Linked DNA regions of Homo sapiens: regions 2 and 3 are each linked to region 1. Evidence: fine-mapped expression QTL. A gene starts in region 1. Each other region holds a variant in brackets. All regions are shown on one strand. Distances are between the middles of the regions.

What was found. PIP is the estimated chance that this variant, and not a neighbour inherited with it, causes the effect.
Region 2: its variant is the best candidate, but not a certain one, in a credible set for the expression of AMZ2 in whole blood (INTERVAL, PIP 0.85).
Region 3: its variant is the best candidate, but not a certain one, in a credible set for the expression of AMZ2 in whole blood (TOPMed, PIP 0.70).

The regions. Positions count from the first base shown.
Region 1 is chr17:68,244,649-68,250,717 of GRCh38, reverse strand. AMZ2 (archaelysin family metallopeptidase 2) reads right to left here and starts at 2,675. Exons shown (of 7, transcript NM_016627.5): 1 at 2,013-2,675; 2 at 248-530. The coding sequence starts at 530. RefSeq lists silencers at 1,190-1,239, 2,549-2,848 and enhancers at 3,063-3,608, 3,609-4,155.
Region 2 is chr17:68,193,372-68,199,440 of GRCh38, reverse strand. It overlaps LOC105371870 (a long non-coding RNA gene), which reads right to left. Exons shown (of 4, transcript XR_934937.4): 4 at 4,765-6,069. It also overlaps the pseudogene ARHGAP27P2. Among named protein-coding and RNA genes, the nearest start is that of AMZ2, 52 kb to the left of the region's middle. RefSeq lists silencers at 1-29, 60-149. The variant C/A (reference allele first, on the strand shown) is at 3,586.
Region 3 is chr17:68,269,705-68,275,773 of GRCh38, reverse strand. SLC16A6 (solute carrier family 16 member 6) reads left to right here. Exons shown (of 6, transcript NM_004694.5): 3 at 1,704-1,847; 4 at 3,007-3,135; 5 at 4,120-4,935. It also overlaps a transcript of ARSG not described here. Among named protein-coding and RNA genes, the nearest start is that of SLC16A6, 18 kb to the left of the region's middle. The variant G/A (reference allele first, on the strand shown) is at 2,405.

The DNA.
Region 1 (6,069 bases):
TTCAAATTAGAAACAAAACCAACTCTAAATTTTCAATAACCTTTATCATTCATTGGTGTTGCTATGAAACAAAAAGAAACAAAATGTTATCTTTTAAGTCAGTTTGGCTACAAAACTTGTACCGCCGCAATGAATATCAAAAACGATCCTAAAACGGCCCATCTGAATCAGACCCATAGCCTGGACTATTCCTGACAAGAGCGCCACTGCAAAACTGAACCAAAACCAGCACATTACCAGTATTTACCAATGGACTGTATATAAATGCTGCGTTTGTTTGGAGAGGGTGTCTTTCTGTAAGGATCACTGAAGAACTGTTCAAAGTCTTGGGGAGCCTCAGGGTGGGAGGTGATCCAATCTGATGGAGAATGCAAGGTAATGGGTCCAAAGAGATCACTGGCTGGCTGGAAGGCTTCATTCATTAAACGTTGTTCCCCAGCATTTAATTTCTCATACTGTGATACAAGCACTGGGTTCTTTGAGATGAGAGCTGTTTTTAGTGTCTGTTCGGAGTGCCGTATTATTTGCATCTAACAAAAAAAAGCAAGTAATCAAATATAAAAATACATATCTACATTGGGGACTTTACCTATCCTCTATATTTCAGCTCTGATTTCTCCCTAGAGTGAAATGACTGATTGCTAATGCTTTAGAGTGGTCACACTTAGAGTGGTTTCCTCATGTCCAATTTCTTGGAGATCTAAGAAATTAAAAAGACAATCATGAAATCCATTCCTCCATCTCATATGGAACCTGCTCCCATTACAAAAACTAGTGGTGGCCAGGTGTGGTGGCTCATGCCTGTAATTTCAGCACTTTGGGATAGGAGGATTGCTTGAGGCCAGGAGTTTGAGAACAGCTCAGGCAACATGGTGAGACCCTGTCTCTACAAAAAATTTAAAAATTCCCTGGGCATAGTTGTGCACATCTGTGGTCCTAGCTACCAGGGAGGCTGAGACAGGAGAATCACTTGAGCCCAGGAGCTTGAGGCTGCAGTGAGCCATGACTGTGCCACTGCACTCCAGCCTGGGCAAGAGTCCAAAACAAAAAAAAAAAACCTCACGGTGACCACAGGAGCAGGACCTCACACCCAACTTCCTTCTTTTGGGGAATAATATTGGCCTGGCACAGTGGCTCACGCTTATAATCCCAGCACTTTGGGAGGCCAAGGCAGAAGGATTACTTGAGCCTAGGAGTCTGAAATCAGCTTCGACATCATGGCAAAACCCCATATCTACAAAAAAATTAGCCGGATGTGGTGATGTGCACTTGTAGTCCCAGCTACTTGGCAGGCTAAGATGGGAGGATCATCTGAGCCCAGGAGGTCGAGGCTGCAGTGGGCCGTGATCGTGCCACTGCAGTCCAGCCTGGGCAATAGAGACTCTGTCTCAAAAAATAATAATATGAATTAACTCATCAGTGCCACATGAAAAATACTCATCGTTTCTAATGTGACTCAAAGATCTTCAACATCAAATAAAAACAAAACTAATGTAAGCCCTATCATTTCTGCAATTTAACTGCAGGCTGAGAAACTACAGCTTAGCCACTGAAGTTTATGGCCTCAAAGTCATGTCACATTAGGGAAGACATCAGATGACTAATCAAAAGCCAGCCTCACAATGACAGGTTTCTTCCATTCACATCGTGTTCCTATATAGAGCTTTCATCCTTCCTCTTGAATGGGTCCGATGTTCCACCACGAGGCTTTTTGAATTAAGGAAAAAGTTGAACATCTCTGTCTGGATCATCTTTGTCATATTTTCTAATTATTTAGATTTTGCCAGTTTAATGATAGACGATTGATGGGAAAACTTAAGCTAATGTCTGTTCTGATTGAACCTATAAATTCTGGGGTTGAAGAGGCTGACTAAAATTCCAGACCAAATGTCTCTGTACTCAAAGCTCTGATATAAGCATAGGCTCATCCTCACTCCTACACAACTGGGCTGAAATCTGACTTCTACAGGACAAAATATAAAACAAGATGTACCTTCCTGTAGTCTACCTACCTTGATTAGGAAGGAAGGCTCCCATGGAAGCTTTTAACTTACAAGGACGGACATGTCTGGGCCTGGCTGGAAGAAAGTTGTGGAGTGTGACTTCATCTTAATATTAAAAAGGCAGTGTGAAAGGTCAGGAGGCCTCCTCTTGCCTCCCAAGCCTAATCTAGGGAAGCTGCGGGAGAAGATGGGCAGGGGGCGCAGAATTCGGTCACTGCAGTGGGCTGGAGGCCTAGGATGCTTTGGTCCCAAAACCAGAACATCACGGGCAAACGGGAAGGAGCTGGCCACCCTGGCTGGTTGCCTATAGCAACTCGCACTGTGGGCTCTGGTCCATGCAGACACAACCCAGTCTCCAGCTGGGAGTGGAGTGGGGGTTCCCCAGGGACTCTCGCTTCGCCTCTTCTTCCCCAGGAGCCTCGGGAAAGGCCTCCCTGGCTCCCTAGAGGCACCGACCCCGCGGACCCCGCGGCTTCCGCCACGTCCGCCCCTCCTACATCCTCATCCCGCTCCACCGACCGCGACCGGCCCCCGCCTCTACGACCCGGCTACCCTGCCTAGGGGCCCCGGCCCAGCTCTGACAGCACCCGCGAACCGCCCTGACCCGACAGGCCTCGATACCACCCACCCGCGGCAGCCCTCACGCGCATGCGCACCGCGTCCCTTCGCACTGCGCCACGCCACGCCCACTGGCGCCACGCCCCTTACGCCACGCGCCGCGCCGCTGCGTCGCGCACGCCCTGTGGGCCCCGCCCAACTCACGACCCACCCATGCCACGCCCCTGAGCGTGCGGCCGCCTGGGCAGGCGCAGAGCTGGAGTTCAGCGGCCGCGACCCGCCTCTTCCAGAATAGAGGGTAGCGAGGGGACTACAAGCCCCAGCTGTCCACCCCCGCAGTCGCCGATTCCTCGCTTGCGCTCGCGGCGGCTCCGCGGCCCGGTTCTCGAGAGCCACAGATGCGCCCGCGTCGCTGGGGTCTCCCGTGTGGGAACGTCCTCGGCAGGCCGCGGGTTTGAGAGGCATCGCCGGCGTGACGAATGCAACCAGCGTGGCCCCAAATGAGTCGGCGGCCGCCGCAGGTTGACGTAGAGCCGCAGCGCTCCCCGGGGCCGTCACCCTCAGCACTTTCCCTTCTTTATTTGTTGGGGGCCGCGGGGGCTGGAACCCAGAAGCGCAAGTGTGGGGCGCGTCCTCGTGGCGTCCCTGGCGCTCCGAGGCCGAAACCCGGATGCTGAGGGGAGGCCGTGAGCTCGGAAAGGCACCGCGGGGCCGGCATTAGGGCTGAGCTAGCTCTGTACCCTCTGGTGGGACTTTCGGTCTCTCTGGGCCTCGCCATTCTCTTTCTTTTTCTTGCTTTTTTTTTTTTTTTTTTTTTTTTGGAGACGGAGTCTTGCTCTGTTGCCCAGGCTGGAGTGCAGTGGGACAGTCTGGGCTCAGTGCAACCTTTGCCTCCTGGGTTCAAGCGATTTTCCCGCCTCAGCCTCCCCAGTAGCTGGAACTACAGGTGCCCGCTATCACGTCCGGCTAATTTTTGTTATTTTTAGTAGAGATGGGGTTTCACCATGTTGGCCAGGCTGGTCTCGAACTCCTGACCTCAAGTGATCCGCCCGCCTTGGCCTCCCAAAGTGCTGGGATTACAGGCGTGGGCCACCGCGCCCGGCTTTTTTTTTTTTAATACGGGTTTTCACCCTGTTACCCAGGCTGGTCTCGAACTCCTGCGCTCAGGTGATCCACCCCCCCGCACCCCGGTCTCCCACAGTGCTGGAATTACAGGCGTGAGCCACGGCGCCCGGCCTGTTATTTTGAAGTCAAGCTATTTTACCATCCTCTGGATTTTCGTCATCCTAATTCTCCTTCCCAGTCTCAAGGAAAGACAGGCACATTTTCTTGATGACTTCAGCATTTGTAACCCCTTGTTGGCTCTCCTTAGAGGACATTAACTCTGAACCTTTCAACTTCGAGGATCTCTTTAGCCCTTCCTTATTTGTTCACTCTCCTGGATCATGAATTCTCCAAATTTGTCCTTTGAACCCAGTGCCCATATCCACCCTCACCTGAACCCATTCTTGAATAAAATGCATTCCTACCATGACTGTTCTCAAAGTTTGAAGTTGAGAATACCGATGCGCCACTCCTGCTTCAATGCTTGAGAAGTCGTGGGCTTTCTTCCATGTGCCTTTTGACTGGGCGCCTATCTCCCGACAGCCTGAGGTGGTGTAGCATAGGGGCGAAGGTGGTCTGTGCTTGAATCCCAAAACCCTCACTAGCGTGGGACCTGTGTCAACTACTTGACCTCTTTTGTAAAACGGAGACAATTACAGCACATCTTTTTTTATTATTATTACTTGACACGAAGTCTCGCTCTGTCATCCAGACTGGAGTGCAGTGGTGCGATCTCGGCTCACTGCAACTTATGCTTCCTGGGTTCAAGCGATTCTCGTGCCTCAGTCTACAGAGTAGCTGGGACTACAGGCACACACCACCACGCCCGGCTAATTTTTTTTTTTTTTTTTTTTTTTGTATTTTTAGTAGAGACAGGGTTTCGTCATGTTAGCCAATTTTTGTATTTTTAGTAGAGACGGGGTTTCACCATGTTGGCCAGGCTGGTCTTGAACTCCTGACCTCAGGTGATCCACCTACTTCGGCCTCCCAAAGTGCAGGGATTACAGGCGTGAGCCACCGCGCCCCACCTACAGCACATCTTAACAGAATTTTAGGGATCAAATGAGTTCCTTTGGATACTGTGCCTGTTTTTGACTGAACAGCTGTCTTCTGACATCCTGAGTGGCTTCTTTAGCTTAGTTGTCACCTCTTCTATAGCCTCATCCTGCCTCATGACAAAACTTTACTTCTGCCTGTTCATTGCCTTGTGTGTACATAATAATACTGCAGTTGTCCTTGTCACAATGATTGTAACCTATTTCTTACATGTCACCCTTACTCAACTGCGAGATGCTTGAGGGTAAAGACTCTCTATACGAGGTGTCTGAAGCATAAAAGGTATTCACTAGATTTTCAGTCAGTTTTTTGGTATTCATTAAAAAGAACTTCATTTTGCGTTTAAACTGTTTAAATTTCTAAATCATGAACTTTGTACTTGCTCACAAATTTTAGGATAGCATTATTTCTGCATGGTCTAATATTTATTTTCTTAAATAACTGACCAGGCATGGTGTCTCATGCCTATGATCCCAGCACTTTGGGAGGCTGAGACAGGAGAAAGGAGAATCACTTGAGCCTAGGACTTCCAGACCAGCCTGGTCAACATAGGGAGACCCCATCTCTAAAAAAAAAGAAAAAAGAAAAAAAAAAAGCCAGGTGTAGTGACACATGCCTGTAGTCTCAGCTACTTGGGAGGCAGAGGTGGGAGGATGGGTTGAGCCTAGGAGATCGAGGCTGCAGTCAGCTGTGATTCACAGCACTTCAGCCTGGGCAACAGAGTGAGACCCTGTTCAAAAAAATAAACAAATAAACACCTTAGTGCTTCGGGGGGGTTAGGTTTTTTTTTTTTTTTACATTAGAAGGAAAAGACACTTTCTCTTACTAAGGTATTTTTGCCTGTTAACTAATATGCAGTTGCAGAATGAACCATAGTCTGTCTGCATTTCAAAGAGCACTACAAGTTCTGATATTTAAAATGAGTGTATATGCCAGTGGCCCAAGGTTGGAGAAGAAAGTTGGTAACAAATTGGAAGGTGGCAGAAAGCAGGAAAGAAATGTAACATATATGGCAGATGAAGGGTTTTAAAATAGCTTTTACAAATCAGCACAGAAAAGATAAACACCATGACATAAAAATGAGCAAAAAATATGAACCATATAACCCGAATGGTCCATTAACATCCATGTGTTCAACTTTACTGAACACATGAATGAAATAAAATAAAAAACACTAATAATTTTTTCTTACCTGCTAATTTGGCCAAGCTGTTTGTTTTGAAATAATTTCTAGCTAAAAGAAAAGTGGCAAAAGTAGTATAAAGAATCCCTGCATTCTCTTCACCCAGATTCCCCAGTACTTAACATTTTACCTCATTTCTTTATCATTCTCATCCTTTTTGTGTCT
Region 2 (6,069 bases), 51 kb after region 1:
GGCGAGACGGCGGCGCGCGCCAGGTAGTCCAGGGACTGCGCAGGCCGCAAGTACAGGCAGGCGGGCAGGCCGGGCGCCAGGCTGCTGCGCTGGGTCGCGGCGCCGCGTTGCGAAGGGCCGCACAGGGAGCTGGCGCGGCCTCGGGGCTCCGCGGGGGTGCTGTCGGGGCCCGCTGCCGCCGCCGCGCTCACAAGCCGGTAGTCGTAGGTGAGCGGCTCGGGGGCCGAGGGGACTGTTGGGGGGACCTGGCGGCGCGGCAGTGGCAGGTTGTCTCGTCCGGGCGTTCCCGTTCGCGGGGAGGTCATTTGCCCAGCGCAGGCAGCTCGCGCACGTACTGCGCGGGCAGGTAGAAGGGGTGGCCGCCAGGCTCGCGCCGCACGTGCCACCAGTGCTCCGTGCTGCGCCGCAGCAGCCAGTAGCGCTCATTGGGCCAGATGGCCACGCGGCGCCAGTCCTTGCGGGTATACTCGAAGGGGTGCTCCACCACCAGGTAGACATCCCCCTCCACATACGCCGGCATCGTGGCCGCGGCGTTTTTCTGCAGGCAACAAGGAGGAGGGCCGTGGAGGTCAAGACCACCGAGCCTGGAATAGCCCCGCACTCGGGGACAGACTTGGGTTCGAGTCCCGATGCTGCATTCGCCGTTCGCCTTCGGGCCTGAGTTTTTCCATTTCTAAAATGGGGACTTGAATAAAATCACATGTAAGGCTTCCATTCTTACACTCAGTGCTGGAATTACGACAACCTCTTCATTCCGTGGGGTTGATTCTAAGATTTCAGCCTCGCTTCAGTCCTGCGGTGGGGAGATTGTGGGTAGTCTTGGTCCAAATCGACTGCGAGGGAAACTTTGGTTTTAAAACGAGGGGTGATTGCCCGCTCTGAGGTCGACACCACGCTTACTCAGGTGACTGAGCCTTAGTTTTCCATCAGTCAAGTGGGAAGAGCAGCCCATTGCCAGCCGCTCCCCGGGCCCTGTCCCGCCTGGACGCCTCCCGCCCGCAGAGAATCCGCAGAGTCCCGTAGCACCGCCTCCCTCCAGGAGCCTGCGCCCCGGCCCCTGGGTCAGGGTTGGGATGCGGGCTCTGCAGACGCCCCGGAGAACAGCTTTACCTGCGGGCTGTCCCTGCCCGGTTTAGTCCAAGGGCCTCGGTGTGAGGGCCTCCGCTGTCAAGGCGGGGGAACCGGTTCTCTTGGTTTCTCTCTCCTTCCCCAGAGGCTTCAACGCAGACGTGAGCCCCAGCCGGGCCCGCCCCGCCCCCTGCTCTCCGGCTCTCACACCGCACCCCCCCCGAAAAAGGCTGCCCACCTGCCCTGGGACCCCCCGGATGCCTCCACGAGAGTGGCCCCTGGAGAATGCACTCTGAGACAGTGACTATCCGTGCGGAGTCCCAGAGCAGGGGCCCCCAAAGCTCTCCGGAGTGGTCACAAGCCCCGCTCCCGCCCCGGCTCCAGTGTGTCAGGGATGGGGGAGAGCCTAACTAAATCTGCCTGCACCCCTCCACCAAAGCCACGAGTCGGTGGTCTTCTCCGGAAGTGCATGGCCCCTCCAAGCTCCCACACTGACCACATCTCCTCCTGCCTCCTAAGGTGACCCGGACCAGGGGCCAGGAGACCGCCGCTTGCCGAGGCTGAGGGACTGAAGGAGCAGGGTCCAACCAGGCCCCCCGTAGGGCTCCTTCGCCACTTTCTCAAGCGTTCCTCGACGAGGAAAAAGTGTAAACTGAGTCACTAAGCACACTGGGTCCCGGAGGCGGGGTCATCGAGCTGCCCAGAGCTGGACCAACAAACCCCAAGGAGGACACTGCCCCGGCGCCCCTTCCCCATGGACCCCGCAGCGCACTCACGTCGGCTGGGCGGGCCTCAGGGAGCCCAAGGGCCGGGGGGGGCCGAGCCGGCAGGTTAGGCCCCGACCATCGCCCTGGGCGTGGCTTCCAGGGGCGAAGCCGGAGAGGCTGCACGGAACCGGAGCTGGCAACGGGAGCTAAGAGGGACAGGGACACTCAGGAGTGCTGTCACCGATACCCAAAGCAGCTGTGTCTGGGCGGGGCGAGGAGGGGCCAGAAGGCCTCTGCTGGGGACCTTGGGGGCATGGGGAAGACAAGGCCCGAAGCAGAAGGCCGGGGCCTGGAGCCGGGAGGGCTGCGTCTGAAGGGGTGCTGGCTGATCGCTAGCAGAACCCAAGGAGGGTGGGGCCGCCCCTGCCCGGCCTTCCCCCTTCTCCCCTCACCTGGGGATTTGCTGTCCCTGCGTCCCTGCGTCCCTCCCGCACGCGGCTCTGGGAATGCTGGGCTGGGGCTGGTTGTCTTGTCCGGGCGTTCCCGCTCGCGGGGAGATCATTTGCACCCTGAATCCCCCACTGCGAGCACTTCCAACCGGACTGCAGACCGCCAGCTCCGGGCCCGCCTCCCTCACCAGGGCCTTTCCCCGCACAGCCCGGCCGGGCTTGGAAAAACTCCGAGCGGGATTCCCAGCGCAGGGACGCCCACCAGGCGCGGTGTCTCGGGCTGGATAAGAAGGGGACCCGGCCACGGCTCCTTCCCCGACCTGGGGGCACACAGAGAAGGAGAGAGATTGGTGGGGGGGGCGGGGTGCCGGGAGGATCCCTGGAGCGCAGGAGCGCACCAGTCGCCAGGAGGTCTCCTGCGTCCACCGCCCAGGCGACGCAAGATACAGAGGCGTCAACGCCTGGGTGGGCGTTGGGGGCCTCCCTGCTGCCCTCCAGCCCAATGGAGGGCAGCCCTTCGCCTACCTTCTCCTTCGCGTGGGATGCGGCCCGCGCAGATCCTGCCCCAGCGCGGAACTAAGGGGAGCAGGCGCGCGGAGCTCCCAGGTGCGGACCAGCCACCTGCCGCACCCTTTCCTCCCCCACCCTGTCCCCTTCCCCACCCCCTACCCCCACCCCTAACCCCACTTCCCACCTCAACCCCCGCTCGGCGCCTCACTCCCGACCCTGCCTGCCCGGGCAGCTCGGGGCGTCCGCTCGCCGGCCTCGCCTCCACTTGCCCCGGCAGGCGCGCGTGGGCTCGGCGTTCCGCGCTCCCTCCTCGACCGCGCGGCTCCCGCGCTGCCAGGTTTCCTGTATAACAGTATAACCAGGGAGGCACCGGCGGAGAGCGCCTGGCAGAACTTCCCGGACTGGGTCTGGGCTGCAGTTGACAGAGACAATCCCCGGCGCACTGGCTTCCTGGCGCCGGGCCAGCGCCTGAGGAGCGAAGACGCCACCCCCTCCCCTGCTGCACTTCCCGGGATCCTGGGCCACACCTGGCTGTCTCCAGGGAGGAAGAGGCCGCGGGGCTGAGATGGTGGGACTGGGGATGGCGGGAGTCTCCCCCGCAGCTTCTCCTGGCCAGATTGCCTTCCCACCATCCCCCAGTCCCTCTTGATCCTTGTGGGGAAAGAGGGCCACCCTCCAATCCGTCCACAGGGTAAGCTCAGAACAACCTCCTGGAGGCCAGGAGTCCAGCCCCAGGGCCCTCTGCCTTGGAGGTCTTCTGTTTGGGAATTATCTGCCTCTCTGGACAAGCTGCCTTGCCCTGATCTGAGCCTGCGCTCACTCCACACATCACAAGCCCCAGCCCCAGCAGA[C/A]CCCCTGCCCTCAGGGGCCCCAGGAAATTGTTGTGCCTGTGGACCTGGCTGTGTGTGCGCAGAGCTGGCTGATTCAGGCTAGTGTTCTGGGAGGAAGAGACGCCCGCACCCCAGGCCATGGCCCCTCTTGACACCACCTCCTGGGGGTCCAAGGTTGGGTGGGAAGCTGAATCTGGCCACACTCGTTCTGGAACTCCCTTATCTCTATATGTTTGCCCCCGCTAGGCGTTGCCCACCCGTTGAATCCACACTTACTCTGAGAATCTCAGTGTGTCTGAGACCTGGTGGCACCTTGGGACCCTCCAGGGTGGGCACACAGCAGAACTCAGCATTGGTCTAAGCATTGACCTGCTTAGAAAATAGTGACTGGAGGAATCTTCTCTCCCTCCCTACCTTTTAGGTCTCTCCCCACCTGCACACAGCCAGGCAGCGGCTGGCAGTAGTGATGGTCTTTGCGTGGGGTCAGGCATGTATGATGCCCCACTCTGCTGCCTGGTAGGCCTTGGGAGTTCTGCCTTATCTCTGCAGCTCAGCTTTCTTTCCTATCAACGGGATAGTAACACCCACCTCACTGGATTATTGGGAAGATTAAATGAGGTCCACTAAGCAGTGCTTACCACATGCCTAGCGCACACCATATATCAGCCTTTTTTTTTTTTTTTTTTTTTTTTGAGACGGAGTCTCGCTCTGTTGCCCAGGCTGGAGTGCGGTGGCACAATCTCAGCTCACTGCAACCTCCACCTCTGGGTTCAAGTGATTCTCCTGCCTCAGCTTCCTGAGTAGCTGGGATTACAGGCACCCGCCATCAGCTATTTGATTTGAGCTATTATTTGAGCTCAAATCAAGGAAACTTGACTTGAAAATTAAATGATTTCTTTGCTTTATAAGTTAAAAAAATGGTTTAAAAGTTTAACAAATGGTTGAACTAAAATGAACAGAGCCTCAGTGACCAGTAGGAGAATTCTGAGTCTACCATACGTGTAACTGTAAAAGGAAAGGAAAGAGATATTTTGGCAAGTAACTCCTTGGCAAATATTTGGCAAATATCAAAAGAGGCTGAATTAAAATTCTGGTAGAATTTTTAAAATAAATTGACAGGTGAATTCTAAGATTTATATGTATACGCAAAGGATCTAGAATAGTCAGGACAATTTTCATAAAGACTAAGAAACTGGAGGATTTGTTTTACAGAACCTCAAGTTTTAATATAAATATACACTATCAGGAGACACTAGTATTGGCTAAGGAAAGAAAAATAGACCAATAGCATAGAATAGAGATTACCGAACTAGACATACACACATATATGTTTAATTTACTTTTGATAAGATGCCAAGCAAATCTATGGGTAAAAGAAAGAGTTGCCACATGGTGCCGAACTATATTTCCATATATTAAAAAAATAAACCAACCTTCCATGAAATGCAAAAATTAACTGAGTGGATAATAAGCCTAAACAGAGGGCTAAATAACTGTATGTCTTCTAGAAGAACGCATTGGAGAAATTACTTCTGACTTTGGAATATGCAAATGTTTCCTAAAGAAGGCACAACACCTACAAAATGTGTTTTAGAATGATAAATTGATTGTATTAACATTGTAAACTTTTGCTCATCAAAATACGTGGAAAAAATAAAAAGGTGGCCGGGCGCGGTGGCTGACGCCTGTAATTCCAGCACTTTGGGAGGCCGAGGTGGGCAGATCATGAAGTCAGGAGATTGAGACCATCCTGGCCAACATGGCGAAACCCTGTCTCTACTAAAAATACAAAAAATACAAAAACAAAAACAAAAAACATTAGCTGGGCATGGTGGCAGATGCCTGTAGTCTCAGCTACTCGGGAGGCTGAGGCAGGAGAATCGCTTCAACATGGGAGGCAGAGCTTGCAGTGAGCCGAGATGGTGCCACTGCTCTCCAGCCTGGCAACAGAGCGAAGTCTCTAAATAAGTAAATAAATATCAAAAAAATAAAAAGCCAGAGACAGAAAAAAATTATTTGTACTATATGCATACCTGACAAGTGACTTCTATCCAGGACATATAGTTTTTCTACAAATCATTAATAAAAAGACAACTTAAAAATGGCAAAGTAAGTGAGCCATATTGGCTTTCAAGGGCTATAGGATATTACGAGCCTTATATAAATACACAGATACACATTATTAAATATTTCATTGACATTTTCATGAATAAACCAGAAAAGCAACTTATTAGTTTAAGATCAAAATAATTGGAGTCAAATAATTCCAAATTATAACTATATTTTTGCCACTTCCTCAAAAGCCAAAATAGAGATGAGATTATTTTATTTACTACTTCATGTATTTTCTGATAAAAAGAAAGGTGCATATTAAATAGTATTTAAAAATAACCAAAGGACATGAAATTAGTATACCAAAGGGATAGCCACACCCCCATACTTATTATATAGCATTATTCCTAATAGTCAAGATATGGAATCAACCTATATGTCCATGAAGAGATG
Region 3 (6,069 bases), 25 kb before region 1:
TCCTGAACTCGTGATCCACCTGCTTCGGCCTCCCAAAGTGCTGGATTTACAGGTGTAAGCCACCGCACCCAGCCAAGATAACTTCATTTTTAAATTGTGGAATGCTTAATTACCTTCTTAGAAAGATAACAAATGAATTAGGACTAAAATGTTACATTTGGTAATCTAAATAAAAAGAAAATCCCAAAGCTTAAGTTTTAGGTCTTTTATAACTAAAAATAAAAATGTAGTCAACAAGAAATTTCCACTTAATACTATTATACCAGAAGATAATTCTTCCAAATGCTATTATTCTAGTTGTTAATGCTTTGAGCCAACATCCTGGCTCAAAATGATGAGAGTGGTTTTATTATGAGCTACATCCAAGATTACTTTGTATTCTAATAGTTAACATAGTAGATACATATAGACTAACCCAAAAAAATGGAATCCTTTTTTTCCCACTTCCTTTTCTAGCATGTTGTTGTTCCTTGACCCAACTCTCAATGGCTCACTTACGTCACTGTTGTCAAGTTAATATTAAGTAACCTATAACTAGGAAACTAATTTGCCAGATTTAAATGTCCTAGGGGATACAGCTTATAGAAGCTAAGCAAATGATGATTCACTTTCAATTATCTATCCCATAGCAACTCTCCTTCAGGAGTGCATAACTTAGAATTCACATTCTTTCATCCTGTCAAGAAACTAACTAGGCTGGGCGCGGTGGCTCACGCCTGTAATCCCAACACTTTGGGAGGCCGAGGTGGGCGGATCACCTGAGGTCAGTAGTTCGAGACCAGCCTGACCAACATGGAGAAACCCCATCTCTACTAAAAATACACAATCAGCCGGGCATGGTGGCACATGCCTGTAATCCCAGCTACTTGGGAGGCTGAGGCAGGAGAATCAGTTGAACCCAGGAGGTGGAGGTTGCAGTGAGCCGAGATCACACCACTGCACTCCAGCCTAGAAAACAAGAGCAAAACTCCATCTCAAAAAAAAAAAAAGAAAGAAACTAACTAGAATCTGACCCCAAATGGAGCTTTTTAAAAAGAATCCAAAGTAGTGAGTAGAGAAAAAATAATTCAAGCAATCATAGGAAAACCAATTTTTATTATAGAATAACATAAATTCAATACATATCTAATTTTATAGGTGCTCATGGTGAGTCAGAGTCATCTAAAAATATAGATAAAAGTTTTATACTGTTATTCTGGCTTTCTCTTTCAGGAGTCTGACAAATCGTGTTGAATTTGAACAAATAGTAAAATAATTCCTGCACTGACTTTGCATGAAATGTGTTATGGTTTGGTTTTGTTTTTTCTTGAGACAGGGTCTCACTCTGTCACCCAGTATGGAGTGCAGTGGTGCAATCTTGGCTCACTGCATCGTCTGCCTCCCAGGCTCAAACAATCCTCCCATCTCTGCCTGCCAAGTAGCTGGGACTACAGGTGCACACCACCATGCCTGGCTAATTTTTGTATTTTTTGTAGAGACGGGGTTTCACCATGTTGCCCGGGCTAGTCTTGAACTCCTGGGCTCAAGCGATCCTCCGTCCTCAACCTCCCAAAGTGCTGGGATTACAGGCATGAGCCACTGCGCTCGGCCATATTTATATTCGACATCATCTCTCCATGTGCAAGACGTGGAGGAAGGAGTCTTATGGCAGCTAACCCTGAAGCCTCTGTGAGTTAAAATATCGTTTTGTTCTTTCCCGGCAGCTCCCCTCGCCACAGTCCTGAGCAATCGTTTCGGACACCGTCTGGTAGTGATGTTGGGGGGGCTACTTGTCAGCACCGGGATGGTGGCCGCCTCCTTCTCACAAGAGGTTTCTCATATGTACGTCGCCATCGGCATCATCTCTGGTAAGTGTTCCTCTTTGGCTCAGAAGTTGTCTAGACACTTAGTTTGAAGAACAAGGAAGGGGAAGGAGGAAATTAAAGCCAAACTATATTTCTTTCTCTTTCTTTTTTTCTTTAACATTAACAGTGTCTCAGATCAGTAGTTTTGAACTGAGCTATATGGACTTCAGGGGACCTGGGAATCTGTTCTCAAGTGCCCAAGGGTTTTTGTTTGATCTTCACCAAAGATGATGATAATTTCTCTTTTGCTGTATTTGCAGCCAAAAGATAGCATTTTTACAAAGTAAGACGAATTTCTGTAGCCAGTATTTCTCACATCAGTGTCTGAGGATCCAGGGCTGTAGGGGAAGTGCAACATGCCAGACTTATTCTTGGGGGCCTAAGAAAACCTTTTTCCATTCAAAAGGAGTAGCCAGCATGGTGGCTCATGCCTGTAATCCCAGCACTTCGGGAGGCTGAGACAGGAGGATCACGTGAGCCCAGCAGTTTGAGACCAACTGGGGCAACATAGGGAGACTCCATCTCTACAAAAAATAAAAACTAGCCAAGCGTGGTGGTGC[G/A]TGCCTGTGGTCCCAGCTGTAACCATCCTATCACTTTGGAGGCTGAGGTGGGAGGATCACTTGAGCCTGGGAGGTCAAGGCTCCAGTGAGCTGTGATCACACCACTGCACTCCAGCCTGGGCAACAGAGTGAGACCCTGTCTGTTTAAAAAAAAAAAAATGAAATGAACAATAAAAGGAGGCCATATATTCCTCATAGATGATAGATACACACACAGTTGTTAAGATTTGCAGACTTTAAATTTTTCCTGTATTTCTGCACATATGAAATGACTTATTTCTTTCTAGATACAAATCTTATATAAAATTTCATGCAATAATAGTTTCATCCATTGTGAATTATATAAATTTGAAAAAAAGTGTTGCAAAGATAAAAAAAAAAAAAGTTATATTTTTAGTATCCCAAACAACCACTGAAGTTTATCCAGACCGTTAATGAAACCCATTTTTCTTTGCAACATCACCTTTGTCCAGAATGAATTACTTGGCTCCTAGAACTTAAGATTCAAAAAGCAAAACCAAAAATCCCAGATCTTTTAATGCATCCTTCCAGTCTCAAGCAGTATGTGGGTCTCATTGGCTTTTTTGACTTTTCTTTCACAGGTCTGGGATACTGCTTTAGTTTTCTCCCAACTGTAACCATCCTATCACAATATTTTGGCAAAAGACGTTCCATAGTCACTGCAGTTGCTTCCACAGGAGAATGTTTCGCTGTGTTTGCTTTCGCACCAGGTAGGTGGACTACAACAGCCTAAGTATGAATGTGGATGAGAGACGTCACTCAGGTATTCTTGCTACGCTAACTTTTGCCAACAGTATGGATGACTTTCAGTGTATGTGTAATGAGACGTTATTTACGTCTCTTCTCCAGCTCATTTTTAGGATCTGTCCTCCCTAACCCCCACTTTAGGTATTCAGACCACCTTAATAATAGGTTTCAATTCCTAACTGGGCACATATGCAGTGGTAGGGCTTTCTTGACACATGCATTCCAGAATAATCTAGTAATTTGCAATTATTCACCTGTTATGTCCTCTCGTTTTTCAAAAGAGCTACATTCAATGTGGATTTAGATTATGCTAATAAACACAGCATTCTTATCTGTGTGTAGATCATCTCAAAACAAAATCTGTAACTGAGCACGGTGGCTTACACCTGTAATCCCAGCACTTTGGGAGGCTGAGGTGGGCGGATCACCTGAGGTCAGGTGATCGAGACCAGCCTGGCCAACATGGCAAAAACCTGTCTCTACTTAAAACACACAAAAAAAGGCCAGGTGCAGTGGCTCATGCCTGTAATCCCAGTACTTTGAGAGGCCGAGGCAGGCAGATCAGGAGGTCAGGAGATCGAGACCATCCTGGCCAACACAGTGAAACCCTGTCTCTACTAAAAATACAAAAATTGGCTGGTCGTGGTGGCGCACGCCTATAGTCCCAGCTACTCAGGAGGCTGAGGCAGGAGAATCGCTTGAACCCGGGAGGTGGAGGTTGCGGTGAGCTGAGATCAGGCCACTGCACTCCAGCCTGGTGACAGAGTGAGACTCTGTCTCAAAAAGTAAATAAATAAAGATTGAGTACATTCATACTGCTGAGTATAATAAATTTCCACAGAACTTATAACAAAATCTGGATCCATATTTCTTCTTGATGGCTTCTCCTGGGTCTTGAGTCCATTATTGACCTTATATTATTTCTTCTTCACTCCTGCCTATTCAAGCAATCATGGCTCTGAAGGAGCGCATTGGCTGGAGATACAGCCTCCTCTTCGTGGGCCTACTACAGTTAAACATTGTCATCTTCGGAGCACTGCTCAGACCCATCTTTATCAGAGGACCAGCGTCACCGAAAATAGTCATCCAGGAAAATCGGAAAGAAGCGCAGTATATGCTTGAAAATGAGAAAACACGAACCTCAATAGACTCCATTGACTCAGGAGTAGAACTAACTACCTCACCTAAAAATGTGCCTACTCACACTAACCTGGAACTGGAGCCGAAGGCCGACATGCAGCAGGTCCTGGTGAAGACCAGCCCCAGGCCAAGCGAAAAGAAAGCCCCGCTATTAGACTTCTCCATTTTGAAAGAGAAAAGTTTTATTTGTTATGCATTATTTGGTCTCTTTGCAACACTGGGATTCTTTGCACCTTCCTTGTACATCATTCCTCTGGGCATTAGTCTGGGCATTGACCAGGACCGCGCTGCTTTTTTATTATCTACGATGGCCATTGCAGAAGTTTTCGGAAGGATCGGAGCTGGTTTTGTCCTCAACAGGGAGCCCATTCGTAAGATTTACATTGAGCTCATCTGCGTCATCTTATTGACTGTGTCTCTGTTTGCCTTTACTTTTGCTACTGAATTCTGGGGTCTAATGTCATGCAGCATATTTTTTGGGTTTATGGTTGGAACAATAGGAGGGACTCACATTCCACTGCTTGCTGAGGATGATGTCGTGGGCATTGAGAAGATGTCTTCTGCAGCTGGGGTCTACATCTTCATTCAGAGCATAGCAGGACTGGCTGGACCGCCCCTTGCAGGTAATTTAAATACACAAAATACAAACACTTGTCTACTTTCCCTTGTGAATTGTGCTAGCTTCCTGTTCAAGCCATAAAAAAAACTTACTGCCGTTTTATATTTCCATTGAATTTTAGAGCTGCCAGGGATTAGAGATTACCTGAGCCAGCCCTCTTGATTTAAATATGAGGAAACTGAAGGCCAAAGAATTGAAGCTAAAGGTCAGATGGTAAATTAGTGGTCGATTCAGGACTGGAAGCTGTGTCTGTAGTCCAGATTGACCCTGGCCTTTTTTTTTTTTTTTTGAGATGGAGTCTCGCTCTATCACCCAGGCTGGAGTGCAGTGGCGCAGTCTCAGCTCACTGCAACCTCCACCTCCCAGATTCAAGTGATTCTCCTGCCTCAGCCTCCTGAGTAGCTGGGACTACAGGCACCCACCACCACGCCTGGCTAATTTTTGTATTTTTAGTAGAGATGGGGTTTCACCATGTTGGCCAGGATGGTCTCAATCTCTTGACCTCGTGATCCGCCTGCCTTGGCCTCCCAAAGTACTAGGATTACAGGTGTGAGCCACCGCACCCGCCAACCCAGGCTTTTTCTGTCACCTTGCCTTCTCTCATGCTAGGCAAGAACTCATGGATTTATCACCTTCAGAGCCCACCTGACTTTTGGAATGATAGAACTAATGGACTTCTGTAAGTCATCTTCCTTTCTTAGGAAAGGTATTTGGGAATGGATAGCAGCACTCTGTAAATACCTAACTGATTTGTACAGAATATTTCCTTGTAGGAGGGACATAGGTATGTTTCATATCTTAGATCCCAAATGGGTCTTTAAAGTGTTTGTGATTAGAAATCGTACCCCCTGTCAAAAGATACCTAAAACGGGCCGGGCGCAGTGGCTCATGCCTCTAATCCCAACACTTTGGGAGGATGAGGCGGGCGGATCATTTGAGGTCAGGAGTTCCAGACCAGCCTGGCCAACATGGCAAAACCCCATCTCTACTAAAAATACAAAAGTAGCTGGGCATGGTGGCAGACACCTCTAATCCCAGCTATTCGGGAGGCTGAGGCAGGAGAATCGCTTGAACCTGGGAGGCAGAGGTTGCAGTGACCTGAGATTGCACCATCGCACTCCACCTGGGGCAACAAGAA